Regions from separate parts of the Homo sapiens genome. Here regions 1, 2, 4, 5 and 6 are each linked to region 3. Evidence: fine-mapped expression QTL. A gene starts in region 3. Each other region holds a variant in brackets. All regions are shown on one strand. Distances are between the middles of the regions. Region 1 holds the start of ATP2C2-AS1 (ATP2C2 antisense RNA 1). Region 2 has its middle 19 kb from the start of KCNG4. Region 3 holds the start of MEAK7 (MTOR associated protein MEAK7). Region 4 overlaps COTL1 (coactosin like F-actin binding protein 1). Region 5 has its middle 20 kb from the start of MEAK7. Region 6 has its middle 37 kb from the start of MEAK7.

Region 1 (5,061 bases), 40 kb after region 3:
CCAACCTGAAGGTGGTTGTGGGAAACTCTTGGACCTGCAGTCAGTATCAGAAGGCCTGGGCAGACTTGGCCAGCCACCTGGAGCACTGTGCCCTTAAACTCAGGTTTGCCTAACATCAGATACTATGTAAAAACCAGTGAAATTGAAATAGGTCTGCTGATAACAATATCATACCAAGCTTGTTAGAACAAGTTTATCTGTGTCTTAAAAAAAAACAAAAACAAAAAAACCCTGGGATTTTGATGGTAATTGTGTTAAACCTAATACAACAATCTCGGGAGAATTGATACTTTTTTTTGAGACAGACAAATAGTATTCAATTTTAAATTTCAGTTTCCAGTTGTTCATTGCTAATATATAGAAATACGACTGCTTTTTGTGTGTTAACCTTGTATCTTGTGGCTTTACTAAACTCGTTGATTCTACGAGGGTTTTTCTTTTTTAAAAAGATTTGTTGGGATTTTCTGTGTGGACAATTACGTTATCTGTGATTTTCTCCTTTCCAGGCTCTTTGCTAATGCCTTTTAACTTTTCTTGCCATATTACACTGGCTAGGACTTCTAATACTGTGCTGAATAGGAGTGGTGAGGCTGGTCACCCTTGGACCTTATCCTGTGGGGAAAGAATTCAGTTTTTCATCATTAAGTATGATGTTAGCTATAGGTTTTTTGTAGATGTTCTTTATCAGGTTGAAGAAGTTTCCTTCAATTCCTAGTTTGAGAGTTTTTATTACAAATGGAGATTGAATTTTATCAAATGCCTTTTCTGCATTAATTGATATAACCATGTGTTTTTCCTTCTTCAGACTATTAATATAGTGAGTTATATTGGTTTTTGAATGTTGAACTTTTCAGTTATATTGGTTTTGAATGTTGAACTTTGGAATGCTTGAATTCCATTCCTCAATTAACCCCACTTCGTCCTGGTGTCTTATATTCTTCGTACCTGGCTAGATCTGATTTCCTCATATTTTGTTGAGGATTTTCGTGCATATATTCATAAGGGATGTTGGTCTCTAGTATTTTTCTCTAGTTTTGGTATCAGAGTGATTGTTGACCTTATAAAATGAGAAGTGCTCGGTCCCCTTTTATTTTTGGAATTCAGTGTATCGAATTGCCATTTCTTTACAAGTTTAGTAAAATTCACCAGTGAAATCATCTGGCTTCAGAAACTGCCTTTTTTGGAAGGGTTTCAACTTCAGCTTATCTATTTAATCTTCAGTGAGTTTTGGTAGTTTTTGGTTTTCAAGCAATTGGTTTATTTCATCCAATTGATTGAATTTAGGTACATAAAGATGTACATAGTATTATTTATTATTATTGTTGGAATATCTTGAAGGGTTTGTGGTGATATACTTTTTCATTCCTGACATTGGTCATTTCTCTTCCCTTTTTTCTTTGATAAGCTTATTGCAAGACTGATAGTTTTATTGATCTCTTCGAAAAACTAGGTTTTGATTGATTTTCCTCTATTTTTGCTTTTTCGTTTGATTTCTGCTCTTTATTTTGGTGACTGTTTCTATGCTACTCGTGAATGGGGTGTTCTACAAGTGTAAATCAAGCTAAGTTGCTTAATGGTGGTGTTCAAGTCTACTGTGTCCTTAATGAAAAGAAGGTCTTAGTTTTAATGTAGTCTAATTTATATTTTATTGTTAGCATTTTGTGTCTTACTACAGTTTTATCCCTAAAGTTTACATAAGCAAGAGTTCAGAGTAATCGACCCTGGTATTTTGATTACTTAATTTTAAATGGGAAGTAAATGTCTCGGGCCAGCAGTGTGCCCAAGGATCCTGAAAAGTAGAGCAAGAATTGTCCCTGACTCAGGGGGAGGCACTCCTTAGCAGACTGTGGAAGTGGCACACTTCAGCCTTGACCTCTTAGTGGTTCCAGGGGTTGGCAGCTTCTAGGAAGACAGCCCCACAGCTCAAAAGGTTTCTTCTCCAGCCAGCCCTGTGTCTGTGTCTCACTAGGAATGGCCCATCGCTGCATCTCCTCCTGTGGCCCTGGTGTCACAGGTTGTAGCCAGAGAGGGGCTTCTTCCCAGGCTGTGAATCCTACTATGGAGGACTTTGGACTCTGCCTGGAACCCTGGCAGGGGTCCACTCTGACCTTCCTTATCTTCGTCTGACCCAGCTGTTACCACCCCTGGTAGCCCTTTTCATAGCTACCGTGGCTGGGTGCAACGGGTACTTTTATCTGACAACTTGGCCAGGCCAAGTTGATTTTCGTCAAACAAACACTGGTCTAGATGGCGCTGTGTAACTAACATGTAAGCCCGTAGACTTGAAGTAAAACAAACAGTTTATCCTTCATAACGTGAGTGGGCCTCATCCGATCAGTTGAGGACTATAAGAGGAAAAGGCTGAACTCCCTTGAGGAGGAGGAAATTCTGCCTCCAGCCTGCATCCCCAGCTCTTCCCTGGGTCTCCAGGATGCTGGCCTGCCCTCAAGATGTTAGACTTGCCAGCCCCCAA[C/A]ATCCTATGAGCCAGTTCCTTAAAACAAATCTCTGCATCTCCCTCCATCCTGTTGGTTCTGTTTCTCTAGTGAGGCCTGACTAGTAAATGGGGGGTTCTAGCTCTGGCCTTATTTCCTGAGAGATGGGGACGGAGTTCCCCTTCTGGTTCCCTTTGGTGGTTCTGGCGTGGCTTCAGGCAGAAGAACAGCATGGAGACCTCTCTCCTCTGCCATCTGTCACGTGGAAGAGCAGATCGGTTTTTGGAAGTCTTTGGGGCAGTGGGAAATCAAGCTTGTCTGCAGGCAGCAGGAGATACTACAGTTCCTGGTTCCGGAGAGAAGGGCCACTTTCTGAGAGAGACTCTTGCTTTGTTGCCCATGCTGCAGTGCAGTGGTACAATCTCCACCTCCTGGACTCAAGCCATTCTCCTGCCTCAGCCTCCCGAGTAGCTGGGATTAACAGGTGTGCATCATCACGCCTGGCAACTGTTTTTTTTTTTTTTTTTAAACTTTTAGTAGAGACAGACAGGGTTTTGCTGTGTTGGCCAGGCTGGCCTCAAGTGATCTGCCTGCCTTGGCCTTGCAAAGTGCTGGGATTACAGGCGTGAGCCACCATGCCCAGCCCTACTCTTTATGTCCAAAAGCCGAGGCCTTCCTGTAGGCCATTCATGATGGATTGCTGCTCACCCCACGTGGCCATTAACACATGGCTGTGGGTTTCCAACCTGGCCCCTTGTATGAAAAACCCTAGGTAAACACATCAAAATAATTATCCCCCGGCATAGCACTTTATTTAAAAGTCCCTCATTTTATGATGAGGAAATGGGGCCTCCAGGAGGGCAATGGGCAGAGTGTGACCATCCTACCCACTGCCTCTCAGGAGCCCCTTGTATCTGCCACGAGTGGCCTGCCTCACTGCAAGCTGTGGCACAGATACGTAGTTAGACATGGTTAATAAAAATCATTGTGATTTAATAAACAGTGTGGTGTTTCTGTACAGGCCCCTCCCTGTCTGTCCCACAGCCAGCGGGAACGCTGGATGGATGTGGGCCTGGGTCCCTGGAGCCCACGAGGTTCCTGCAGCTTTCCTAAGAGGAAAAACTGATCCGGTGATGGAAGGCTGCGGCCTCCTAAAAGTCTCCCCTGACGAGGAGACACGGCAGGGGCCACAGTCACAACCAGATCGAGATGATTAGGGAAGGTGCCGCGGAGTGCGGTCCACTACACATCTTCAGGGTGCATCTGGACTCTCTTGGGGCTGCAACAGTATTTTTCACATAGTTTGAGGAGCTCTGACAAAATGAAGACGGATGAGGCCAATCCAGTTAAAAACAGCAAATCTGCCAAGGGAGAAAACAGAAAAGATTCAGGACGGGCTGCAGCTCTGTTGCGCCGGCAGGAAGCGCCTTCCCTGCCAGTCCTCCTGATAAAGTGAGAGGTGCGGAGGACCAGCCCTTTTCATTCCCCTGAAGGCAGGGAGATCTTCCTAACCCAGAATCCAAAATGCTGCAGTTCCAGAAGGGCCTGCCTGTGGTTCCAGGCAAACACCAGGCAGCTCCAGAGCACAGGGTGGGTCTGGCAGGCAGCTGGGAGCATGTTATGGACTCGGGCTGGAAGGGGAATGAGTTTCCTTTCCCTACAGCAGCTGTCCCAGTGCCCTGCTGCTTGCAAATGTCCTGAGTGACCAGTCTGGGCTCCCTGTCCAGTGCACCCCGACATGTTCCCTGGGATGAATTCCCAGCGACATGTTCCCTGGGATGAATTCCCAGCGTCTCCCTCTGCTCCTGTCACATGCTGTTTTGAGGAACCATCCCTGGCTCCCTGTTGATGATTCCTGATGTACGGGCTGCCCAAGCACAACCCCTTCAGGCGTGGGAAGCCGACTTCCTTCCCGGCGGGTGGAAACAGCCAGTGAGCAGAGTGTTTTGGGGGGTCCTCTTGTCTGTTCCTACAGGGCATTCACTGGTGACCCACACTGACACTGCTTTTTGGAGGACAAGGCAGAGTTGACCATCCCAGTCTTGCCTGGAGGTCATAGGACCGTTGTCACTGCAGCCTCAGGTCTGATGCATAATCCCATGACCCTCCAGATCTGAGCCATGACCCACTCTGGGCCCTGCCGGCGGGGAGGCGGTGGGCCCATGGGGGCTGCCTCACTGGCCTCCCTCGTCCTCTATTCCGGGTTGGGGTTGGCTCTCAGCACACTGGGGAAAAGGGTGGGGTCGATGACTTGTCCCTGGCTCCCTCCCCTTGCCCCATGCCTGCCATAACCGCAGCTTCAGAGAAAGGTGCCACACTCGCTTGGCTGACAATGTCGGGGAGTCCCCTGGGCTCCACACCAGGGCGTGTGCCCTTGGAAAACCACGGTGACTGAATCATGTCCCTTTCAGCCAAAACTGGAAGACAGCCCAGCTCCCTGCCTTCAGGTGACCAGATCTCTAAGTCACATTACTGGCCCCAGGGTCAAGTCCAGGCTCCCCAGCTGGGGTACCTCCCAGGCTGAGTACAGGCCTTGCTCCCTCCTTCCTCCCTGCACGTGCTCTGAGCCTCCAGCCCGACGCCTGGGATGCCGGTGCCCCTTGGGCCCCAGACCCTACTACTCTTGAGT
Region 2 (5,071 bases), 250 kb after region 3:
AGAGTCCACTGCCAAGATTTGACAATTCGGACCTCCAGGTTTTTCATCTAGGTTTAGTCTATCTCAAGTTCAAATGCATGTCCTTAAATAATTAATTTCTCTTCATATTCTAATCTTGAAAGCCTGAATGCCTACAATCTTAGTGAGGCGGTGCAACCAAAAGCAATTAAATTCCTATGAGAGACAAACAGTGGCTGGTGGTTATGCGCTCACAGCTTGGAAAATAGAATTGGAAGGTGTCGAATGGGCTGCTGCCTCTCTGAAAAGGAGTTCCACATGACACAGGGAGGACAGGCTAGACGCTGGGGGTCCCGGAGTCGAGGGATGCGAGTGTGGCCCCTTTGCATTACGAGCTGCCGGAGCCAGAGCTCAGAACTTGCTTGGACGCGGTCTGCAAGGGGCTGGGCGTGGGGCTGAACGGCTTCTCTTCCTCTCCTGCAGCAGAGCCACAGCACATGCACACCTTACCACAAAGCTCCCGTCTTCACCACTCGCATTCCTGGCCACCAGAGAGGGTCCTGCCCAAGGGCACCCTGCAACATCGTCATGCTTCATCGTTGCAAGGGCCACAAGATGCACCAGGGCTGAGATGGCAACCAGGAGCAAAGGAGTGCCTGGTGAGGTGTACTCTGACATGGACACAAAGCTGATAAAAGACTGCCTGGTATGCCAGAGAGAGCAGGATCCCTGGAAGAGATGGCCATCTGGACTTCCCAGGACCACAGGTATGCTTAGTTCCATACTTTGAGCATACACTGGACATAGGGGTCTTTTGAATCTACCAGAGCTGTGTTTTCTGCCATGATCATAAAAGACCAGTTCCCAGGATGTACCAGAAAACTCCCGTGGACAGGTGGCATCACTTCTGCCACCTTCTTAGTCACATGGTATAAGCCAGTTAGGAAACACAAATCATCAGGCACCTCTGCACCTGTCAGCAGGCCACCATCCTCTCCTTTCCTTATTAAAAAAAATAAATTTGGCCAGGTGCAGTGGCTCACGCCTGTAATACCAGCACTTTGGGAGGCCGAGGCGGGCAGATCACCTGAGGTCAGGAGTTCAAGACCATCCGGGGCAACATGGTGAAACCGTGTCTCTCTACTAAAAATACAAAAATTAGCTGGGTGGGGTGGCAGGTTCCTGTAGTCCCAGCTACTCAAGAGGCTAAGGCAGGAGAATCGCTTGAACTGGTGAGGCAGAGGTTGCGGTGAGCCGAGATCACACCACTGCACTCCAGCCTGTGTGACAGAGTGAGACTGCGTCTCAAAAAAAAAAAAAAAAGAGAGAGAAAAATTCACATACAAAAAAATGAAAAAAACAAATAATAAATTCACCTTTAAATCACAAAAATATACTTGCATTTTAATTTTGCTAGGTTTATAAAGAGGGAGCAGTCCAGTAGAGTATTTAAGAGTGTGGACTTAGAATGCCGGTGCTCAAATCTCACTCACATTCTCCTCACTGCTGTGTGACCTTGGACAAGTTGCTTGACCTCTCTGAGCTTCTGTTTTCTCATCTGTAAAAAGATACTATAAAGCGTCTCTATCTCAAAGTTGCTGGGAGGGCTCCCTGAGGTTAAGATGGAAAGGATGCCATCAGCTCTCAACCATTTACTACTCTATGGGTCTGGAAATATGCATGACAAGATGGAAACAGGGATTGTTTGAGATAAGCGTGTGTATTCGAGTATCTTCTGTAGACATAAATTTTGTACAAATATTCAAACCATTGGTTATGGACTGAATGCTTGTATTTCTCCCCATCTTCATTTATATGTTCTAACCCTAACCCCCAGTTGGGTGGTAGTAGGATGAAGGGTTTTGGGGAGGTAATGAGGTCAGAGGGATGGAACACTCATGAAAGGGATTAGTGCCCTCATAAAAGGGACCCCAGAGAGCCCTCTTGCCCTCTTCCCTCAGGTGAGGTTGAAACACGAAGTTGGCAGTCTGTTGCCTGAAAGCTGGCCTTCACCGGAACCCAACCACGGTGGCGGGTTCCCTGATCTCAGACTTCCAGCCTCTCTAAAACCATGAGAAATACGTTTCTGTTGTTTATAAGCTACCCAGTCTGTGGTACTCTGTTACAGCAGCTCAAATTATCTAAGACAACACCACGTGCTCATGCAGTGGGTGCACAGACCGGAGGAGGGAAGATGGGGCGACAGAGCGAAACACTCCACTCCGTTTTCATTGTCGTAGTATTTTTGGAGAGCCGGCATTTGGATCTACACATACACATATAAGAACATTGAGAAAATATGGAAGTTATCTGGAAGAAAAATAAATCTTGTTTTCTATAACCTACCACCCTATTCCCAAGAAAGAGATGGTGGGTCAGTAATAAATGCTCTCATTTTTAGCTAGGCAAGCCCTACCTGGAATGTAAAAAAAATAAACAAAAAGAGTCCTTTCTTTTGGATTTTAGTCATAGTCTCCAATCTAGTGCCCAGGGGTTTGGAGGGTGTGGGGGTCTAGAAAGTTCCGTCATTCAACTCTTCTGAAACTGTCAAGGTCCTTCCCCTGAAAGCTCTCAGTTCTGTGTCACAAG[C/G]CACCATGACTTCTCCCTTTCAGACCCCCTCTCTCTTCTCCTCTTCAAGGACCCTTGACCTCCTTCCCTACCCCAAGGGTTCTCCATTTCTCAGTCCTTCTGGGTCTGTGTGGACCAAAGGGAGGGGCTTCCCATCTGTAGGTGTGTCCGAGTTGGTTCCTTCTGGTGGGTTCGTGGTCTCACTGACGTCAAGAATGAAATCGCGGACCTTCGCGGTGAGTATTATAGCTCTTAAAGGTGGCACGGACCCAGAGTGAACAGCAGCAGGATTTATTGTTAAGAGGGAAAGAACAAAGCAAGACGACCCAAGCGGGTTGCCGTTCCTGGCTGGGGGAGGCCAGCTCTTATTCCCTTATTTGTCCCCACCCATGTCCCACTGATTGGTCCATTTTACAGAGTGCTGATTGGTCCATTTTACAGGGTGTTGATTGGTCCATTTTACAGGGTGCTGATTGGTCCATTTTACAAACCTCTAGCTAGCTACAGAGCGCAGATTGGTGTGTTTTTACAGAGCACTGATTGGTGCATTTTACAAACTCTTGTAAGACAGAAAAGTTCTCCAAGTCTCCAATCGACCCAGGAAGTCCAGCTGGCTTCCCCTCTCACAGGGAGTTCACCAACACCACCTTCCAACCGCATTACTGCTAGATGGGGCTCCTCTTAACCCAGCTCTTGGTATTACATTGCTAAAAGAATTTCTATCTCTTCCAGGCCAAGCACAGTGGCTCATGACTATAATCCCAGAACTTTGGAAGGCTGAGGTGGGTAGATCACTTGGGGCCAGGAATCTGACACCAGCCTGGCCAACATGCTGAAACCCCATCTCTACCAAAAAATACAAAAATTAGCCAGGCGTGATGGTGGGCACCTGTAGTCCCAGCTACTAGGAGGCTGAGGCACGAGAATCTCTTGAACTCGGGAGGCAGAGGGTACAGTGAGCCAAGATCGCATCACTGCACTCCAGCCTGGGCGACAGAGTGAGACACTGTCTAAAAAAAAAAAAAAAAAAAAAATTTCTATATCTTCCAGCATTTTGTCAAATTAGCAAATATTCTCTTTTTGGAACACGCCAGGATCCTGTGGAAGGGAGGAGGAAAAAACAACACATTCCATAACATTTCTTTTTACATAATTAACCTAGAAATACATTTTTGAATGCCTACTGCACACATTCAGGGAATGTGTTGTGTTGTGCTAGCTACAAACATTTTCAAACATTTAAAAAATTACGATCTAATGAGAGCCAAGAGCGTGCATATGGTTTTCTAACCTAGAGAGCGGGGGAGACTCCCTGAGGGAGAGACAGTGAAGCTGCACACGGGAGGATGAGTAGGAACTGGGGAAGGTGGAGGGTGGGAAGGAAATGACGTTCCAAGCAGTGGGAACAGCATGAGCAGAGATCCACGGGGGGAAAAAGGTGATGCAGTCTAGCAGAACACTCCACTTTGTCTTCTCGGGAGCTCATTTTGATAGTGTTTTGTGAGAGCCAGCATTTGGATTTATACGTATACGTAGTTTTTCAACCCAAACAAGATTACACAACATTCTGTGCTTGCTTTTTTTGGTCAATAAATTTCATCTTCTCATTCCAGTAAGATTTCACCTCATCTAATACCCAGACCAAATTCAAATGATCTCAATTTACCCAAAAATGTCTCTCATGGCCAATTTGTCTCAACTGGTATTTCATTATCGAGCAGGCAATTGATAGCTCACAAGAAGATCCAAGACTCAAGACCTTCAGGCAGCCTAGGACAGTGGAAAGAGATCTACCCATTCGAACGTCTGTTCATTCATCCATCTATCCGTCCATCCATCCATCCATCATCCATCCATCCGTTCATCGTCTGTCTATTCATCCATCAATCCATTAACCATCCGTCCATCTATCTGTTCATCATCCATCCATCCCTTCATCACTTATTGTATGTTCCTTCCATGCTAGCTCTTACACCAGGTGTATAACTGACAAACTTCCAGCTCTGGCTTAACCCTAACTCCTTAGATCCAGGCCAGCCCTGTTCCCACAGCATAACACTGCTGGAGGGTCTCAGTCTCCTAGTTTTACTGGGATAAGGAGACCGTAACCCCGACCTCTCCACCACTTTTTGCTCATTCAGACTAAATATACAGTGGATAGTCTTGTCTGTCCTTCCTATTTACTTAGCTAGCAAAAGTGTTATGTGCAAAAGCCTAAATTTTTGCTGACAGCAAAACAAATTTTTAAAAATCCTTTTAGAATAAGAAATATGTTTGTGTTCAGGCAAAGAACAAAACTTCTGCACTTAAAAAAAATTAGGTCAATTATTCTATTGCTTTTAGCTTCTCAATCTTGCCTGATTAAATACTTACTCTAGAAAAATGAGGATCCACGGGAGGACAGCAGACTTTCCTGGTGACCTTCTTGCTCCCCTCTAAGGAAAATCACTGCCCTAGATTTTCAAAATCTTCATAAAAGCCGAGTATGTCTCGAGAAAATAGCTCTTAAAAGGTGTGAAAGCAAATTATGAGATATTTCCAGCAA
Region 3 (5,067 bases):
CCGCCTCACCGAGTGCTGCTGGAGGCTGCTGGTGGTGCCTCCTCAGGGCACGGCTGCTCCTGCGTTTGCTGCTTGGTGGTGGCCTCCTAACAGCCTGGCCCAGAAGGTGGTCCATGCAGCCCAAACTTGGGTTCCAGAGATGGGGAGTCGGGGGCAAGGAGCACATGGGGAAGAGAGAGTGGATGCTCAGCCACAATGGGGGCCCGGTGGTGGCTCAGCCTTTCTGTGGAGGTGTCAAAGCTGGACATGGAAAATTGGGCAGGGATGTCGCTAGCAGAGGCACCGCTGTGGATGGCAGGACCAGCCTGGTCAGGACCTCTGGGAGCCAAGGAGAGTTCAGTGCCCAAAGTCAGCATAAAAAACAGAAGCTGGTGCCCCGGGGGCAGTTGGACAGCCCATGGACATCCCCGGGAGCACCAGCTTGTTGAAATAGCATGATGTATATTTTTAAAAGAGTCTCACTTTATATGCAAAATGTCAAGCAATATAAATCTCTTATTTAAAAAAATTGAGAATACCAGGGGCGGTGGCTCATGCCTGTAATCCCAGCATTTTGGGAGGCCGAGGTGGGTGGATTACCTAAGGTCAGGAGTTCGAGACCAGCCTGGCCAACGTGGTGAAACCCCGTCTCTACTAAAAATATAAAAATTAACTGGGTGTGGTGGCCTATGCCTGTAATCCCAGCTACTCGGGAGGCTGAGGCAGGAGAATTGCTTGAACCTGGGAGGTGGAGGCTGCAGTGAGCCGAGATTGCGCCATTGCACTCCAGCCTGGGCAACAAGAGTGAAACTCCATCAAAAACAGAAACTTTCCAACCAGGCAGGTGGGCAGATTGGAGTGTAGGCTGTTTCTGGAGGGTATGGCCACGAGGTGGCGCCACTTCGGTAGCTCTCAAACGGCGCCGCTCCGCATTTGCTTCTGTGGTTTTCTGGGGGATTTTGTTTCACCGTTTTAATAACAAGATCTCACTTTCCTGCCCAGGCTGGAGTGCAGTGGTGCAATCACGGCTCACTGCAGTCTCGCCCTCTGAGGCTCAAGCGATCCTCCTGCCTCGGCTCCCTGAGTAGCTGGGACTACGGGTGTGCCATACCACGCCCGGCCAAGCTTTTCATTTTTTGTAGAGATGGAGTCTCACTATGTTGCCCAGGCTGACACATCGGCTCCGGTTTGCTCCTGCGGACCCCCCAGTACCTGCACCTGAGAGGCCACCATTGCTGTCCACCCTTGGTGTGCCTCAGCCTACAAAAAACTGTTGCTATGTCAAAAATGCCACTACCTCGGATGGCACTGAAAAAGACACACCTGGTTGATGTGTGCAGGAAGTACAGGGGTGTGAAGGCTGGAAACAGGGTCTAGTCCTTCATGTCTAAAGGCCCGTGTGTCTTGGGCATCAGGAGCCCTGGCTGCAGGTGACAGGCACCTACTCTAAGAAGCCGAGGTGAAGAGCTGGGGCTACTCGTGTCATTGGCATCCACAGCTGGGGGTACCCTGGCTGTAGATGCGTTAGTTTGTGGAGCTGCTTCTCCTGGGACATTGGCCTTGGATCTCAGAGCAATGTCTTGGTGAGGGGCCCTACCTTGTGCACTGTCACCAGCCAGGCCTGCTGCCCTCAGGCAGAAAGCCTTCTATTTTTGTTCCAGCTTAAAGAATAAGAGGTGACCAGCCGGGTGCAGTGGCTAACCCCTACAATTCTAGCACTGTGGGAGGCCGAGGCAGGCAGATCACCTGAGGTCAGGAGTTCGAGACCAACTCAAGCGGACGTTGGCGGGCGAAGTCACGGTTTTCCAGGCTGGAAAACCAGCAGGCCGTGCAGGGGAGAGAACTGGTACCATGGACATGCGGGAGCTGAATCTGCAGGAAGGTGGACCCCAGGGAGGATGCGTGGGGTGGAGAGAGTAGGGAGAAGTCGAGAAACTCCAGGGCAGAAGCCAGAAGGGCCCAGGGAAGACCACCAGGGACAGCGAGCGAGCCAGGGCCAGGAATGGGCGCCGGGGTGCCCAAGAGAGAGGTCTGATGAGAGCACGATCACCAAGCGCCAAATGCTGCCTGCGAGGACCCAAAGCGCACCTCGGATGTAGTGAGCAGGCCCCCGGGACCAGGTTTCGGTGGGTTTGAGAAGGAACGAGCTGAAGAAGTGGGGTGACAGGTTCAGACGTCTTGGAGTGAACGGGAACCGGCTGAAGAGGCGCACGTGGGGTGGAGGGAGTCTGTTTAGCCAGGCTGTGGAGCTGGCGCCTGATGGCTGCCGGGAAGGACCTGGTGCCAGGGAAGAGCGAGGCAGGGGCAGCTGGCAGAGGGAGGCCCGAGGGGAGGCGGACCCGAGGCTCTAGGCCAGGACCAGCAGGCCGGGGAGTCAGGGGAGAGTTGCCTGGGGCCCAGGAGGCTGCACTGCAGAGGCCTCTGCATGGGCTCCACATGGGCCACTCTCCTCCCCCGGGTGTCTTCACCCCCAAGCTCAGCCTCTCCCCCAGGATCTCCCACACCCTGGCTACTCCGCTCCAGCGCCCAGCCCAGACACCCCTTCTCCCCAGGTACCACTGCTGGCCTGGCCTGGCCTGAGTCATTGGCCGCCCTCTCCAGGCGCCTCCTTGGTACGCACGCAGCCGGGCCGGATTCCCGGGCCTGCAGCCGCTCCTCCCGCAGACCGCGGCCCCGCCCCGAGCCGCACCCACCGGGTTCGGCTCACTCCCTGTGAGGCGCGTCACCATTGGCTGACTCCTCTCTTGGGTTCCGCCCCACACCTCCGCTTCCACGATTGGACCAAATGACTGCCCCTCAGCAATGTTGCCTGGCAACAGGGAAGGGGCGGCTCTCGAGAGGAGCCCGTGGGCTGCTGGACCGGACCGGACAGCACCAGGAAGCCCGGCAGGGTAGGTACCTGGGCTGAGGTTCGCAGTGAGCTGACCCAGAGGCGCAGGCCCAGCTGAGTCGGGGGACTGGAGCAGACGGGTCCAGAGTAGGCCTGGGCCCTGCCCCTCCCTGGCCTCCCACGCCTCTTCAGGCCCTCGGGTCGGGGGAGGGAGAGGTGAAGGCTGCGGGGAGGTGAGGGGTGGGGACAGCGGGGCGGGATGGAGGGAGGGTCTCCTGGGGGGGATCAGAATCATCCTGCACCTCCCGCTGTTTATGTGGTCAAGGTAAGAGGGTGGCGAGGTGCTTCCCCCAGGGCCAAGGCCAGCCGTGTTGAAGGGGGATTCAGAGCCTGTGTAGACGCGGAAAGGGAGGGGTGCCTCCACGGAGGAGGCGAGTCTGGGGTAGACACTGAAGTGTGTGTGGAGGGGGTTTTCCTTCTTGTATTCTGACCACACCCATCTGGGCTTTTCCAGGACAGTGAGCTGATAACTGTTCCCAGGCCATGTAGGTGGCCAGCACAGGACAGGTCACCTTCTGGCCCACAGGAACTTCTTGCCCAGGCTCAAGCTGCCCCTTCGCACAAGGGCCTCTGGGCTCTGAGACACAGACAGGACTTCGAAGCCTGTCCAGATGAGGCAGTTGGAATCTCCCCAGCTTGTGGGGGTACGGAGGGACCCTTGTGTGGCTCTAGGGATGCGGGGCCCTTGGAGTAGAGAGTTGGAGCTTGGCAGCCAGGGTGGGAAGCAGCCATGTAACAGCCTGTTGGAGAAGCTCTGAGCAGGAGGTGACTAAGCCATTCCTAGGATACTAGTGGGAACCTTGGGGGCCATCCTGCAGACAATCGGTCCCTGTCCACCCCTCCATCACGGAGGCAGAGCAACCTTCCGTTTCTTCCAAGCAGGGCAGTTTCTCTTGTTCTAAGACAAGATCCCAAGGAGCCATTCTCTGTTGTCTTGGGCCCATTATTCTGTCTCTGACCTCCAGTAAGCAGATCAAATGCCCTGGGTTACCTTATTTAATCTTCTCAACCTTATGTTAAAGAAATTAATTAATGATGCTTATTAAAAGCACATTAATTATTGAAGACCATTGCAATGGGTATAGGGACCACAGCAATGGGATTTTGTAGTAAAGGAGAGAGATTGGGCTCAACTCTGATTATAGCATGGGCAAGTGGGAAGCCAGGAAGCAGGGTGGGGATCAGTGGATGGAAGATGACTGAGGAAACATCAGGGCGCTAGGGTGGATTCTGGGTAAGCTTACCTAGCAGTTTGTTACTGAAGGCAGGCCAGGGTGATCAGACATCACCTAGGGCAAGCTCGTCCAACCCGTGGGCCATATGTGGCCTAAGGCGGCTTTGAATGACATCCAACACAAATTCATAAGCTTTCTTAAAACATGAGATTTTTTTTTTACCATATATGTAGATATATGCACTTATCAGTTATTGTTAGTGGGTTTTATGTGTGGCCCAAGACAGTTCTTCCAGTGTGGCCCAGGGAAACTGAAAGATTGGATATCCCTAACCTAAGCATTAAACCTGGTTAGATAGCAAGTGAACAGATAATGGTGATCAAATATCAAGGATGAGTGGTTTTGTGGGTTTTTTTGTTTGTTTGTTTTTTGTTTTGCTAAAACCAGATTTTACAAAGAGGTACACAGATGGGCCCAGGAGCCTGACTAAAGTCTGGTCAAGCAAAACATCTTGGTCACTTATTATGGGCTGCTGGAACTTTTGTTTGTGTTTTTATGAGACAGAGTCTTGCTCTGTCACCCAGGCTGGAGTGCACTGTTGTGATCTTGGCTCACTGCGACCTCTGCCTCCTGGTTCAAGCGATCTTCCCACCTCAGCCTCCTGAATAGCTGGAACTATAGTCACACGCCACCACACCCGGCTGAGGTTTGTATTTTTGGCAGAGACGAAGTCTCACTATGTTGCCCAGGCTGGTCTCAAACTCCTGGCCTCAAATGATCCTCCCAAAGTTCTGGGATTATAGGCTTGATGATGGAAAGCTTTCAGTCCCTGGCAAGTTTTCTCGGTGTCATGGGACTTTCACAGTACACCTGGGTACATGGGGTGGCCTCTTCTCTGCAAAGCTGTGCATAACACAACCCTACATTGGCCTCGAGACTTCTGTGGGTTCCCTTGTATCAAGTTCCGCTTCCATTTTGTTCCGCTGCCCTACATCCTCAGAAGCCAGGTTTTCTCACCTTCAG
Region 4 (5,071 bases), 62 kb before region 3:
TTTGTAGTTTTAGTAGAGATGGGGTTCCGCCATGTTGGCCAGGCTGGTCTCGAACTCCTGACCTCAGGTGATCTGCCTGCCTCGGCCTCCAAAGTGCTGGGATGACGGGCGTGAGCCACCGCACCTGGCCTGAACCATTTTAAAGTGTACAATTCAGTGGCTTTCAGAACATTCACAGTGTTGTGCAAGCCCTACCTCTGTCTGGTTCCAAAACTTTTTCATCACCCCAAAAGGAGATGGTGGCTCTTTCAAGACGCCAGCTTTGGCATCAACTGGACCTTCTGGTTGTCTGACTTCGGACAAGCATTGTAATTTCCAGCCTTTGTTTCCTCACCTTTAAAATGGAAATAATGTTGATCACCTTACGGGCCTTTTTAAAAAGAACTTGATTGAGGTATGATGTATGTACCTCAAAATCAAGTCATCCTAAGTGTACTTTTTCAGTACTTTTTCGTGAATTTGTGGAGTTGTGCACCCATTACCACAATCCCAATTTTAGAACGTCTCTATCATTTCCTGTTCCCATCTCCAGCTCTGTGTAACCACGAGTCTGCTTTCTGTCTGTATGGGTTTGCCTTTTTTAGACATTTATACCAATGGCAGCTGACAGTACATGGTCTTCATGCCTGGCTTCTTTCACTCAGCATCCTGTTTCCGAGGTTCATCCATGTAGTTGCGTGTGGCAGCGCTTCATTCCTCTCTGTGGCTGAGGAATATTCCATTGTGTGGACGGACCGTGTTTTGATAATCCACTCCTCTGTTGATGGACATAGGGGTTGCTTCCACCTTCCATGATTCATATTTACTACTGTGTGTCATTCTCAGTACTGTGGCACTGTGCTGGTACACATAAGTGCTTAATAATTGTGGTTAGCCGGGCGTGGTGGCTCACGCCTGTAGTGCCAACACCTTGGGAGGCCAAGCTGGGCGGATCACTTAAGGCCAGGAGTTTGAGACCAGCCTGGCCAATGTGGCGAAACCCTGCTTCTACTAAAAATACAAAAAATAGCTGGGTGTGGTGGCAGACGCCTGTAGTTCGAGCTACTTGGGAGGCTGAGACATGAGAATGGCTTGAACCCTGGGGGCAGAGGTTGCTGTGAGCCAAGATTGCGCCACTGCACTCCAGCCTGGGCAACAGGCTTTTCTCTCAAGAAAAAGAAAAATGGTGGTCATTGTTTATGTTATTTCCTTATGGGCTTTTTTTTTTAATGTGGATGATTTTCTTACCTTTAGACGTGTTATTTGTGGTTTTGATAGCTTTTTTTTGTCAAGCTGTCCGTCATCGTTCTGAAATTTTGTTTGTTAAAGTCTTATGATCCACATATGGCAGTAACTGTGTATCATCATGGCTTAAGGGTGTCTGATAAGCCAGGTCACCTGGTTCCCTCATTCATGCCACAAGCGTTTACTGAGTGCATCATGGGTGCCTGCGGGTTCTATGGGTGAAACCTGTGTACTGCAAGAGGAAAGACTGACTGCATCCATTTTGCTGAGCCCTGTAGCCCCACAGCCTGGCGTGGTATTTGTTGAAAGAAGGCAGAGCCTCTACCCTCGTGTAACTCAGTGCGGGTGGAGAGCCCATGGCAGACCCAGGACTGGAGGCTCCTGCGTCATTAGGAACATTGGTGGCTGAAGCTTGCTTGTCCCAGCTGGCGAGAGCCAATTACGCCTGTCTCCTTCCACCTCCACGTATGGTGACATCACTTTGATAGCTTGACGTCAGCCACTGGGGGACTATTTACATCATGGATATGGGCAAAAGACACCAATCTGAGCTTTTGTCCTTTTCTTTTTTTTGGAGTGCCTGCACACCCGTGAGCCTTTCCAACCTCGTAACCTATTATTTTCCTGACGAGATAGTTTTTTACAGATGAGAAAGTTGAGGCACAGAGAATTGAAGGGACTTGGCCAAGGTAACAGCCCAAATTCAAGCCCCAGCTTCCTCGGGCCATCCCCACGGACATGGGAAGACGCAGCATCAGATCTGCCCCACTCCCTCCTCCCAGTCAGGTTTTTTCTGCCAGATGACTCTGCTGTTCAATTTCCATTGACTCTGCTGCTGAATTTCCATTGACTGACTCTGCTGCTGAATTTCCATTTCCATCTCTCATCAGGGTTTTCAGTGCTTTGCTTCCCAGTGTGTTGCCTGAGCCACCCTCACATCCTGTGCCTTCCTTCTT[A/G]ATAGGAACGCTGTGTTTTCCTTTGTTCTTGCAGAATTTCGCTAAGGAGTTTGTGATCAGTGATCGGAAGGAGCTGGAGGAAGATTTCATCAAGAGCGAGCTGAAGAAGGCGGGGGGAGCCAATTACGACGCCCAGACGGAGTAACCCCAGCCCCCGCCACACCACCCCTTGCCAAAGTCATCTGCCTGCTCCCCGGGGGAGAGGACCGCCGGCCTCAGCTACTAGCCCACCAGCCCACCAGGGAGAAAAGAAGCCATGAGAGGCAGCGCCCGCCACCCTGTGTCCACAGCCCCCACCTTCCCGCTTCCCTTAGAACCCTGCCGTGTCCTATCTCATGACGCTCATGGAACCTCTTTCTTTGATCTTCTTTTTCTTTTCTCCCCCTCTTTTTTGTTCTAAAGAAAAGTCATTTTGATGCAAGGTCCTGCCTGCCATCAGATCCGAGGTGCCTCCTGCAGTGACCCCTTTTCCTGGCATTTCTCTTCCACGCGACGAGGTCTGCCTAGTGAGATCTGCATGACCTCACGTTGCTTTCCAGAGCCCGGGCCTATTTTGCCATCTCAGTTTTCCTGGACCCTGCTTCCTGTGTACCACTGAGGGGCAGCTGGGCCAGGAGCTGTGCCCGGTGCCTGCAGCCTTCATAAGCACACACGTCCATTCCCTACTAAGGCCCAGACCTCCTGGTATCTGCCCCGGGCTCCCTCATCCCACCTCCATCCGGAGTTGCCTAAGATGCATGTCCAGCATAGGCAGGATTGCTCGGTGGTGAGAAGGTTAGGTCCGGCTCAGACTGAATAAGAAGAGATAAAATTTGCCTTAAAACTTACCTGGCAGTGGCTTTGCTGCACGGTCTGAAACCACCTGTTCCCACCCTCTTGACCGAAATTTCCTTGTGACACAGAGAAGGGCAAAGGTCTGAGCCCAGAGTTGACGGAGGGAGTATTTCAGGGTTCACTTCAGGGGCTCCCAAAGCGACAAGATCGTTAGGGAGAGAGGCCCAGGGTGGGGACTGGGAATTTAAGGAGAGCTGGGAACGGATCCCTTAGGTTCAGGAAGCTTCTGTGTAAGCTGCGAGGATGGCTTGGGCCGAAGGGTTGCTCTGCCCGCCGCGCTAGCTGTGAGCTGAGCAAAGCCCTGGGCTCACAGCACCCCAAAAGCCTGTGGCTTCAGTCCTGCGTCTGCACCACACATTCAAAAGGATCGTTTTGTTTTGTTTTTAAAGAAAGGTGAGATTGGCTTGGTTCTTCATGAGCACATTTGATATAGCTCTTTTTCTGTTTTTCCTTGCTCATTTCGTTTTGGGGAAGAAATCTGTACTGTATTGGGATTGTAAAGAACATCTCTGCACTCAGACAGTTTACAGAAATAAATGTTTTTTTTGTTTTTCAGAAAACAGTTTGGTTTCTGATTTGTCCTACAAAGTTCTTTTTTTTTTTTTGCTGTAATAACAGAGGCAGTCATCATCGCCTTCAGATTTAATAGGTGTTTGCGGAGCTGCTGAGGCGGGGCACATTCACATTCAATTGCTTATTTAATTCTTAGCAACCATAAGAAACAGGTGCTGCTTTTGTCCCCATTTCCTGAAATCTGAGGCTCAGAGGGATTCATTCACCCGAGGTCACCCAGATAGAAAGTGGCAGAGCTGGGATTTTTTTTTTTTTTTTTTTTGGTGACAGAGTCTCACTCTGTGGCCCAGGCTGGAGTGCAGTGGGGAGATCTCAGCTCACTGCAACCTCCATCTCCCAGATTCAAGAGATTCTCCTGCTTCAGCCTCCATAGTAGCTGGGATTACAGGTACCCGTCACCATGCCTGGCTAATTATTGTATTTTTAGTAGAGATGGAGTTTCGCCATGTTGGCCAGGCTGGTCTCGAGCTCCTGACCTCAGGTGATCTGCCCGTCTTGGCCTCCCAAAGTGCTGGGATTACAGGCGTGAGCCACCACACCCGGCCAGAGCTGGGATTTGAACTGAGATCTCTCAAAGTCCCTGGTGCTGTGGCTTGTGAGGGGAGCGGGGAGGCCACACATTTGGGATAGCGATGGGACCACAGGTAGTGATTCTTTTTGAGTGGCCAGAACTCCCCTGTCTGCCTGTTTAGGAAAAGCCAAGAGAAAGCATCTTCCTCGTTGGCCATGACATCCTTTCTGAGGTTATCCTACAGCTGAGAAACTGGACTTCCAGCACACCAGACCCTGTGGGAGCCCAGAATCAGGGCAGAGGAGTTTCAGACACAGACAGCGGGGCTTGGAGGAGCTGAGTGTGGGGCAGGGAGAGTGCGGAGAGAGGGCAGAAGCCGAAATCAGGGCAGGAAGGAATCCTACAAGGTATGGGCAAGGCCCTGATCATGCTGCCCAGGGTGGCAGGGGGCCATAGGTCACCACCCTCCCCAGCCCCAGCCCGCCCCAGCCACGTCTGGGTTCTAATTTCTGCTCATCTGTTCACAGCTGTGTGGATTTAGGCAATTTAGTTAACCTCTCAGCCTCGGTTTCCTCATCTGCAAAATAGACAACATTGCCTACGTGTAGAAAGGCTTAAGGAGCAGCGAGGATTGTGCAGGCAAAGGGCGCCTGTCAGGGTGCAGTGTTCTTATCTCACGCCTGCCACTGGTCTTGTTAGCTCTGTGGGCTTCCGTCTTTTCCTATACCCAGAGCTGAGGGAGCTAAACTAGGTCCGTTCCCAGTGCACGGGTTTTAGCTCCGTTCAGAACATGGGCTCAGTAGGTGCATGACTTCATGTCACTCATGCACTGCGTCCCGCAAGCCTTCCATCCTCTCCTGGAATCTCCTGGTCGGCCAAGCCCTCCTCCAGGCCCACTGCCCACCCCACTCCCTGCCCCAAAGCAGACTAGAAAGAATGAGCAGCTCTCAAATCTGCCCCTAGGCCTGTGGTC
Region 5 (5,071 bases), 20 kb before region 3:
GGCGTCGTTCTTCTCCGCAAGAGGCCTCTGAGCATTCAAAGAAATACTGACTCAAAAGCAGCAAGTAGCTCAATCTGAGAGTCTTTTCTCTTCCTTCTAACCACGTCATCCAAGATTCACACGGGCACATCAAACATCCCAGGACTCACCCTGCTTCCGTGAGCGTGGCCGCCTGCCACCATTGGAAAGCCCTCGGAGTCATTAATAACATAGTCTCAAAAATAATAGCCACCGTCTTTTCCTGTTTTCCAGCTTGTGGGCTGACGAGCGGCTGGAATTGTCATCTCCACAGTGGGATTGGCAGAGGGACTGGAAGGACTTTGGGAACTCTAAGTCCTAACAAAGAAAACAGTCCGCCCGGGGCTCTCCGAGGCTGTGGCCTCCACTGTGGGTGTGTGCTGAGGCTTGGACCCGTTTGCCCCTTCCCGAGGCATCACATGACTCTCCTGAGCGGGAGAAAGGTCCCCCTTCCTTGTCGTGTGTGCAGGGGGAGCCCTTGCCTGGTTGTGCTGACCGGGTGGATTTGTGCTTTCTGACGGGGATTTGCACGAAATCTGCTTAGACCGTTAGCCCGGCTGGTGCTGCCAGACAAAAGGCAGCAGCAGAGGCGGGGTCCACGTGGCTGCAGGAAGGAGATGGAAGAGCAGAAGGAAACACCCCTCCTCCAGTCTGGAGCGGAGACACTGCCCTGCACACAGGGCTGCGGTGGGAGGCCTGATCACTTGCGGCTGTTGTGATTTTCAAGGATAGGCTCAGGGAGAAGAGATGGGGTCAGAGAGCCTTCGAGGCAGTTTCTGGAGGCAGGGGCTCTGAAAGCTCCCCTCTTAGGTTCTTCTGAGCAAATGGCCACCCGTTCCCTGGACCTTCATTTCCACAACCAAGGGATGCTTAGTAGTAATGCAGAAAGTGAGTTGTGAGGGTAAAGTATCTTAACCATTACGCTGGTGTCCTTGGGGCAGGGACAAAAATATTAACAAACAGGCCAGCATGGTGGCACACACCTGTAATCCCAACACTTTGGGAGGTAGATGTGGGAGGATCACTTGAGCCCAGTTCAAGACCAGCCTGGGTAACAAAGTGGGACCCTGTTTCTTTCTTTCTTTTTCTTCTTTTTTTTTTTTTTTGACTTGGAGTCTCGCTCTGCTGCCCAGGCTGGAGTGTAGTGGCGCAATCTTGGCTCACTGCAACCTCTGCCTCCCGGGTTCAAGTGATTCTCCTGCTTCAGCCTCCCGAGTAGCTGGGATTATAGGTGCCCGCCACCACACATGGCTAATTTTTTGTAGTTTTTAGTAAAGACAGGGTTTCACCATGTTGGTCAGGCTGGTCTCGAACTTCTGACCTCAGGTGATCCACCACCTTGGCCTCCCAAAGTGCTGGGATTACAGGCCTGAGCTATCACACCTGGCCAGAACCCTGTTTCTAAAAAACGAAACCAAAACAACAACAACAACATTAGCCGTGTGGTGGCGTGCACCTGTAGAACCAACTACCCAGGAGGCTGAGGCAGGAGGATCGCTTGAGCCCAGGAGGTTGAGGCCGCAGTGAGTCGTGATGGTGCTGCCGCACCCCAGCCTGCGTAACAGAGCAAGACCGTGTCTCCAAAAAAAATTAAAAAATTAAAAAATTAAAAGTTAACACGTCTCCATGTCCTCTGAGCTTCCAAGTAGGGCTGGTGAATGGATGAACGGTTTGGCAGGTCTGGGATCCTGGTGGCTCTGATCAGGTAGCAGCTTATGTTGACATCAGGGAGAGTGCCGTGGAAAGATCCACGGAAGAGGAGGTCATGCAGGGGTGAGGAAGAGGTGTTGGAGGCCCACGCTGGGCAGGCTGCTGCTTGGCGTGGGCCTCTGGGGCCACGTGTGAGCACCGAGGACGCTTGTTACATGTCTTTGGAATCCCATTCCTAGATTTGGGGGCAAGCACACATTATGAGTTCTGAGCTAGAAACCACTCTTTGCCAGTTCCAGTCTCATGGGAAACAGATTCGAATCCCGAGTGGGAGTTAGATGTGCCAGCAATGTACTGGATGTAATGCCCATGTGGGTCGAGGAACTGGGGAGAGGAGTGGGTGCTGAAGGGCTTCAGCCGTGGGACGTGTCTGACACTGACAGAGCGGAGGGGGAGGGAGGATGGCAGTTTGGGAGCGGGGAAGAGCCTCAGCCTGCAGAGCAGCAATGAGAAAGTCGGGGAGCCCAGAATAAAGAGGACTGAG[C/T]GGAGGGGGCGGAGTGGCCGGGCTCTAGGAGAGGACTGAGTGGAGGGGGCGGAGTGGCCGGGCTCTAGGAGAGGACTGAGTGGAGGGGGCGGAGTGGCCGGGCTCTAGGAGAGGACTGAGTGGAGGGGGCGGAGTGGCCGGGCTCTAGGAGAGGACTGAGTGGAGGGGGCGGAGTGGCCGGGCTCTAGGAGCCATGCCCTGTCTCACATTGGCTGGGAGCCGGGACACCACCAGATTCTGTCTTGCAGGGAGATCTGAGCCGTGCACCCCCATGGCCACCACAAACCCAAGAACACAGACACAGTAGCCCAAAAAGAGGGATGGATTCTGTTATTGGAGCTGGGGTAAGGTGAGGAGGGGGTCCCAGGCTGAGGGCTGCAGGGGGACCCATAGGATGGAAGCACTTTCAACACTGTTTCAAACAGGCTGCCACATGGGAACCACCTAGACCTGCAGGTTCCTAAAGCTGCCCTTTGGTGCCACAAGGCCCCATGTCTTCCCAAAGCTCCCGCCGGTGTGACAACAGATTATAGTTACATACCAGTGGTTCTTGGTGCTGCTGGTCATTGGAACCCCCGGTGCCTGCACCCCATCTCCCAGAGCTTGCCACTCAGCCGGTCTGGGAGCAGCCCTGGCAGCCGGGCTTGTCTAAGCATCCCACGAGATCCTGGCAGCAGGGCAGCGGGGCTCAGGGCTGCTGGCCACAACAAGAGCAACAGGAGGTCTGATCTTTTGACTCAACTAGCTGTTGGCTGCGGTCGACAGCGTGCGCTATCAAAGTCTGTGCATCCATGTGTGTGTCTCAGCTCAGGCGAGCTCTGAGGCTGCCTGAAGCCTGCTCACCAGGGCCATGGACCCTCCCATTCTGTGGGTCTCATCAACCCAACCCCCAGGTCCCTTAGCGTCAGGTGTTAGAGGTTTCAAAAAGCACAGCCAGATGAACGTTCTTTTTTTTTTTTTTTTTTTTTTTTTTTGAAATGGAGTCTTGCTCTGTTGCCCAGGCTGGAGTGCCATGGCGCAAACTCAGCTCACTGCAAGCTCCACCTCCCGGCTTCACACCATTCTGTCTCAGCCTCCCGAGTAGCTGGGACTACAGGCGGCCGCCACCACGCCCGGCTAATTTTTTTGTACCTTCAGTAGAGACAGGGTTTCACCGTATTAGCCAGGATGGTCTCGATCTCCTGACTTTGTGATCCGCCCGCCTCGGCCTCCCAAAGTGCTGGGATTACAGGCGTGAGCCACCGTGCCCGGCCAAACGTTCTTTTATTCAGGGCCAGATCATTTCCTGGTGGCCTCCCCTGGGTGTTGGTGCCCCAGATTAGTCCGTGAAATCTGCAGGACTGCGGGTAGGGCTGTGTCTGAAGGCCAAAGGATGCTCCCCCCATTCTGTGGGCCATCCGGCTGTGGTGCCCACATGGTATCCTTTCGAGGCGGGAGCTGCTGAGCTCCAGCCCCCTAGCTGCCCCTTTCTGCCCTCTGTTTCCTGGTGAGTGTAAAAAGCTGTCACCGGGGTTGTCAGCCAGTCATGGGAATGCACACAGCCTCCCTGCCAACTGGCAGAGGGCTGAAATCTCTTTAAAGGAGGACACAACCTTTCTTCCTTCCGGAGAAGAAAAGAGACCAAACAGATGTAAAACTGCCTGGAGAACAGTGACTTGAATACTCACAGGTGTGAGCCGCAGAGTAGGCCTGTCATGAGTTGAATGGTGGACATGTCCAGTCCTAAGCCCTGCACCTGTGGCCTTATTTAGACAGAGGGTCTTTGCAGATGAGATCATCCTAGATTAGGGGTGGGTCCTAAATCCAATGACTAGTGTCCTTCTAAGAGGCAGAAGAGGGCTGGGTGCAGTGTCTCACGCCTATAATCCCAGCACTTTGGGAGGCAGAGGCAGGAGGATCACTTGAGCCCAGGAGTTTGAGACCAGCCTGGGCAGCAAAGTGAGACCTTGTCTCTACTAAAAGTGAAAAAAAAAAAAAAAAATTAGCCAGGTGCGTTGGGGCACCTGTGGTCCCAGCTACTCAGAAGGCTGAGGTGGGAGAATCACCTGAGCCCAGGAGGTTGAGGCTTCAGTGAGCTGTGATCGTACCACTGCATTCTAGCCTGGGTGACAGAGTGAGATCCTGTCTCAAAAAAACCCACAAAAACCCAACCAAAACAGAAGAAGCAGAAAAGAAGAAGAGATGGACACAGAGAAGGCCACGTGAAGCTGGAGGCAGCGATTGGAGCAATGTGGCCACAAGCCTGGGACTGCAGGCAACCCCCTGAGGTGAAGCAGCGGAAAGGCTGGTCAGATTCTTCCTCACAGTGCTCAGAAGGAACCAGCCCTGTGGATGCCTCGTTTTGGACTTCTGGCCTCCTGAACTGTGACACAAAAGACTTTGTTGCTTTCAGGCACCCAGTTGGTGATACTTTGTTACAGCAGCTACAGGAAACAAATACAAGATCTATTCCAGAAGAAATCAAGCTCTAGCCCTGGAGCTTGAGCTCCAATACCGGTCCCCGAAGAAGGGGCTAGGCAGATGGAGGGCTGGGAGTGCCCATACCCAAGAGCGCCAAGGGTCCCCTCATCACCTCCAAGCCTGGGTCAGGGACATCCTTGGGCAGCGCCTAGTCAGCTTTAAGGTGCACACGAGTCTCCCAGGATCTTGTTAAAATGCGGATTCCGATTCAGTAGGTCCTGGCGGCCGGAGGCTGCCTTCCTAACAGGCTGTCTAGCGACGCCGGTGCTGCTGGTCCCGGATCACCCTCTGAGCAGTGAGGTCTTAGATTAGTGCTTCTTCCTGGGTGTTTCCTGGTCTACATATATCAATGTCACCCAGATGCTGGTTAAAAATTGGAAAATCCGCTGGACGTGGTGG
Region 6 (5,071 bases), 36 kb before region 3:
AAGTCAGAAGGCTTGTCCACGGTTCCTTAGGTTTTGTTCCAAAACGCACATCTGGGCTGTGGTCACAGAGTTGCTTATTTCAACCCTGGGATGACCTAGTGGCCCCTTTACCAAAACCACCTTTAGTGACCTCTCATTGGTAGCCTGAAATCAGCCACAATGGAAGTGTTTACACCAGGGAAATTGGAAATCAGTAAAGGCCTTCCTTCCAAGCCATTGTTAAACAGTTACCAGCACACCACTGCATGCCCACAGCTGTTCTAAGAACTCTACATAATTCACTCATTTAATCCTTTCGGCCACCCTGTGATATGTGGTATTATTATTATTCCCATTCTACAGATGGGAAAACTGAGGACCAAGAAGTTTAAGTAACTTGCCCAAAGTCACACAACTGTAGAGGATGCAGGCTTTAAACCTAGACATTCTGGATCCACTGTCTGTGTTGTTGACTGCTGAACTCTATAGCTCACTGAAACCCTGACTTCGTGGACATTATTGCTTAGAGTTATGCTGAGAAAGGCAGAAAAAAAAATCACACAGTAGGTTGACTTAAAAAAATATGGGCTGGGTGCAGTGGCTCACGACTGCAATCCCTGCACTTTTGGAGGCTGAGGCAAGAGGATCACTTGAGCCCGGGAGTTTGAGACAAGCCTGGGCAACATAATGAGACCCCTATCACTGTAAAAAAAAATTTAAAGGCTGGGCGCGGTGGCTCACGCCTGTAATCCCAGCACTTTGGGAGGCCAAGGCGGGCAGATCACCTGAGGTCAGGAGCAGAAGTTGGAGACCAGCCTGGCCGACATGGCAAAGCCCTGTCTCTACTAAAAATACAAAATTAGCTGGGCATGGTGGTGCATGCCTGTAGTCCCAGCTACTCGGGAAGCTGAGGCAGGAGAATCGCCTGAACCCGGGAGGAGGAGATTGCAGTGAGCCAAGATTGCACCATTGCATTCCAGCCTGGGCAACAAAAGCAAAACTCTGTCTCAAAAAAAAAAAAAAAAAAAGATTAAAAATTAGCTGGGCATAGTGGTGCAGGCCTGGAGTCCCAGCTACTCAGGAGGCTGAGGTGGGAGGATGGCTTGAGCCTGGGAAGTTGAGGCTACAGCCCCCACCCTCATCCCGAGCTGACCGCTGCCTGGACCTAACACCTGAGCTTGGCTTTGCTGGTTTGTGTTAATGTTTTACACACAGGGTGGACTTTTTGTCTGGCTGCTTTCCCTCCCCGTCGTGTCTGAACTCCATACAAATTTAGGGTTTAGTTGTAAATCATTCTTTCTCAACTTTTGCACAGTTTTTCATGGTTGGTTGTATATGTTTTGGGGAGACAGAAGACATCAACCAATACATGATTTTCACAAATTTACACCCCTATTTATTCACCCATTCCACTGTGATGAGTATTGGGGTGGTTTCTTATTTGAAGCTATTATGAAGAGAGCTGCTATGAACATTCTAGGACATTCTAGGCTTTTGGTGTGTACATTTCTATTGCGTATATCCTAGGAGTGGACTTGCTGGGTCATAGGAATACAAGCGTCCAGGGAAAGATGGAGTTTTATCTGAAATCTCCTGACTTTACAGTGACAGAGGCTAATGCATATATTTTTTTAAACAACAAAGACTCAGCCAAGCAAAACATTCTTCAGGCAAGTCAGACCTGCTAGTGGCCAATTTACAGCCTTTAGTCTAGATTAGACTTCGCTTTCTCTACTAGCCCAAGATCTGTTTCATTGTTTCATTTTGTTTTTTACATTTTTATAACTGTTTTCATTATAAAAGAACTATAACTGCATTATGAAAAATTCAGAAAATGGAGTAAAGAAAATAAATTCACCAAGAGTTCAGCCCCCTAAAGCAAACACAGTCATAGCTTCGTATATCTTGTTCTAGTGCTTTTTTCCTGTGCATATGTATTTTAAAATAAATTTGCAATATTGCTTCATATAAATTATATAAACTGCCATTTGATGTGATCATTTTTGCATTTGCCTGTTATTACACAGTCGTCATATTCCACTACGGTCGGTTTTCGATTCACTTAATTTTCTGAGTAGAGAAAACAATTCCTGTCTTTCTATTTTAGACTTATTAAATCTATAAATAAAAGGCTGCTGGAAAGAGGGCGTTTTCTGCTATAATAATAAGGCTTTATTCAAGGCATAAGGAATGTGGTTTTAAGAGGATGAAGCTGGACACAGTGGCTCATGCCTGTAATCCCAGCACTTTGGGAGGCCGAGGCAGGCAGATCACTTGAGGTCAGGAGTTCAAGATCAGCCTGGCCAACATGGCAAAAGCCCATCTTACAAAAATTACAAAAATTAGCCAGGTGTGGTGGTGTGCGCCTGTGGTCCCAGCTACTCAGGAGGCTGAGGTGGGAGAATCGCTTGAGCCCAGGAGGCGGAGGTTGCAGCGAGCTGAGATCACACCACTGCACTCCAGCCTCGGCAACGATGAGACCCTGTCTAAAAAAAAAAAAAAAGGATGGAGCCTGCAGCCACACTACTTGGATTCAGAATCCTAACTCTACTCAATCCCCACTGAGTGACCACTCCAGGCCTCGGTTTGCTTCATCTTGAAAATGGAGATGATAAACAGCTCCTGACTCACAGCTTGTCATGAGGATTAAATGAGGTGATACCTGTAATGTGCTCAGAACAGGGGTTGGAATGTTACAAACATATAGCAAGGGTTGGCTATTGATTACTAGGTACAATGGTCACTATTTTGTTCATCATAGAACGAAAGCCCAGCAAGAACCCCTGTGAACATTTGTGGGAATATTCTGCTGGGCTTGTATTAGTGCCTA[C/T]GTAATATGCACATGCAGACACCAAATGTGCAGATTCACACATGTATACTGTTTTGTTATCTGTTTCTTGGCGACTCTAAATTTTTTCTTTTCTTTTCTTTTTTTTTGAGATGGAGTCTTGCTGTGTCACCCAGGCTGGTGTGCAGTAGAGCAATTTCAGCTCACTGCAACCTCCGGCTCCTGGGTTCAAGTGATTCTCCTGCCTCAGCCTCCCAAGTAGCTGGGACTACACCTCAGCCTCCCAAGTAGCTGGGTGCATGCCATGATGCCTGGCTAATTTTTGTATTTTTAGTAGAGACAGGGTTTCGCCTTGTTGGCCAAGCTAGTCTCGAACTCCTGACCTCAGGTTATCTAGCCGCCTCAGCCTGCCAAAGTGCTAGGATTACAGGCGTGAGCCACCATGCCCGGCCTAAATTTTCTTTCTGTGTCATTGTTGGGAGACAGTTCTCCATGGGTCTCTCAGGTTTCTACATGTCTTGCAAGTAGAAGAACTATCTTTACAAGGATGTTTATATAGCAAACAACTTTGTTAGACAGAGACAGTGTGTCCCCTCAGATCAAAGGGCAAATTTGTTTTCTGTCCAATATAGATAGATGTTTGCCCCCAGGGCAAGGATCAGGATTTCTTATAAGAAATTTGGGCTCCCTGAGCTCAGGGATCCTCAGCTGTGAGAAATGTGCTGTGTGCGCAACACCCACCCCTTCCGGGCCCCTTTGCATGGCCCCTGTGGGACTTGGGGACAAGGGAAACCGATGCAAACATAAAGCTCATGCTACTTGCTGTGCTGCGAGTAATAAAGTCACTTGTCTCTGACCCAGGAGGCTCGTGTCTTCTGCCAGCAACCATGGCACTGCAGCAGGCTCACCTGGGGGCTTTCACAGAGGGTCAAATCCCAGCTCATCCATGGGCCTTGAGAATCATGAAACAGTCTTCCCCAGCATCACTTCCAGGTTCTACCAGAGTCCCCTCATTTGGCCCCTCTATCATTCTTTGGGTTAATCTTCCATCTTTGGAAACGTAGCTTGCTTTCCATTTTGTCACTGTTTTAAACAATGCTGTAGTGTGCACTTGTAGCTGAGCTTCGTTCTCATGTGACTACCCCGATACTGTAAATCAGAGATTCTGAGGAGTGTTGGCAGGACCCCTGATGCCAGCAAGTTCAGCCTCTTGATGCCCATCGCACATTGAGGCCTAGTGGGTCCTGAGCCACTGGGAGTTCCCCTCACCCCTCATTCTCCACTGGCCTCTCTCCCTGGGCCTGTAGAATCTTCCCAGCCTCCCTCATCCTCCCGAGTCTCCCTGGGGGGCATTTAACACACTGGACTCTAATTGAGGGGTCCTTTCTCTCCAGATCCTGAGCTCTTTGAGGGCAGGGACTTCCTCATCCTTGTGTCCCCAGGACCTGGCACATTGGGTGCTCATCCAATGTTAACAGAACCTAAACAGAAACCATCAACAGATTCAAAAAGGACATCCAGGCACCGTACGTTAGGGCGTCGAGCCTACTGGTTCACTCTCGTACCTCTGTACTCCAGGAGGTATTCTGAGTGTCGCAGAATCACATCTACTGTCAGGGAGCTGCAGTCAAAGGAAACCAAGGACTGGAAGGAAGAGTTGCACTGAGGAGGGGCAGAGTCAGCTCCTTAACCTCCCTAAGGCTTCTCACAGTGAGCCCTCTAGAAAGGTTTATTTATTTATCTTTTACTTTTACTTTTTGATTTGTATTATTTATTTATTTATTTATTTGAGATGGAGTCTAGCTTTGTTGCCTAGGTTGGAGTGCAGTGGCGTGATGTCGGCTCACTGCAATCTCCACCTCCCAGGTTCAAGTGATTTTCCTGCCTCAGCCTCATGAGTAGCTGGGATTACAGGCATGTGCCACCACACCCGGCTAATTTTTGTATTTTTAGTAGAGATGGGGTTTCATCATGTTAGCCATGCTGGTCTTGAACTCCTGACCTCAGGTGATCCGCCTGCCTTGGCCTCCCAAAGTGCTGGGATTACAGATATGAGCCACCACGCCCGGCCTTATTTTTATTTTTTAAGCCCCCATTCTGAGAAGCAACTTTTATTTTTTATTGAGATACAGTATATACAGAGAAGTGCACACGTCTGAAGTGTACAGCTCCAAGAACACTCACACACTAAGCACAACCATGCAATGGCATTCAGGTCAATAACACACTAGTGTCAGCCCCCAAGCCCCACTTCATGCCCCCTATTGAGTCACCCTCAACAGTAAGCGTGACTCGAACTTCCAA

The links.
Region 1: its variant is fine-mapped to the expression of MEAK7 in tibial nerve (GTEx, PIP 0.98).
Region 2: its variant is fine-mapped to the expression of MEAK7 in cerebellar hemisphere (GTEx, PIP 0.98).
Region 4: its variant is fine-mapped to the expression of MEAK7 in whole blood (TOPMed, PIP above 0.99). The same link has a PIP of 0.9 or more in neutrophils.
Region 5: its variant is fine-mapped to the expression of MEAK7 in whole blood (INTERVAL, PIP 0.98).
Region 6: its variant is fine-mapped to the expression of MEAK7 in whole blood (TOPMed, PIP above 0.99).

What each region holds. Positions count from the first base shown.
Region 1 is chr16:84,462,346-84,467,406 of GRCh38, reverse strand. It overlaps ATP2C2 (ATPase secretory pathway Ca2+ transporting 2), which reads right to left. Exons shown (of 27, transcript NM_014861.4): 27 at 3,220-3,793. The coding sequence ends at 3,675. ATP2C2-AS1 (ATP2C2 antisense RNA 1) reads left to right here and starts at 46. Exons shown (of 3, transcript NR_146503.1): 1 at 46-103; 2 at 4,408-5,061. The variant C/A (reference allele first, on the strand shown) is at 2,474.
Region 2 is chr16:84,256,303-84,261,373 of GRCh38, reverse strand. No RefSeq gene overlaps it. Among named protein-coding and RNA genes, the nearest start is that of KCNG4, 19 kb to the right of the region's middle. The variant C/G (reference allele first, on the strand shown) is at 2,548.
Region 3 is chr16:84,502,404-84,507,470 of GRCh38, reverse strand. MEAK7 (MTOR associated protein MEAK7) reads left to right here and starts at 2,812. Exons shown (of 8, transcript NM_020947.4): 1 at 2,812-2,870. It overlaps LOC124903736 (a long non-coding RNA gene), which reads right to left and starts at 2,669. Exons shown (of 2, transcript XR_007065149.1): 1 at 2,536-2,669; 2 at 1-125. RefSeq lists enhancers at 1-224, 2,352-2,471, 1,834-2,781, 2,902-3,402 and silencers at 497-733, 717-836, 3,022-3,071.
Region 4 is chr16:84,564,099-84,569,169 of GRCh38, reverse strand. It overlaps COTL1 (coactosin like F-actin binding protein 1), which reads left to right. Exons shown (of 4, transcript NM_021149.5): 4 at 2,215-3,574. The coding sequence ends at 2,325. Among named protein-coding and RNA genes, the nearest start is that of COTL1, 51 kb to the left of the region's middle. The variant A/G (reference allele first, on the strand shown) is at 2,181.
Region 5 is chr16:84,522,444-84,527,514 of GRCh38, reverse strand. No RefSeq gene overlaps it. Among named protein-coding and RNA genes, the nearest start is that of MEAK7, 20 kb to the right of the region's middle. RefSeq lists enhancers at 2,367-2,951, 2,952-3,535. The variant C/T (reference allele first, on the strand shown) is at 2,213.
Region 6 is chr16:84,538,744-84,543,814 of GRCh38, reverse strand. No RefSeq gene overlaps it. Among named protein-coding and RNA genes, the nearest start is that of MEAK7, 37 kb to the right of the region's middle. RefSeq lists a silencer at 2,458-2,752. The variant C/T (reference allele first, on the strand shown) is at 2,810.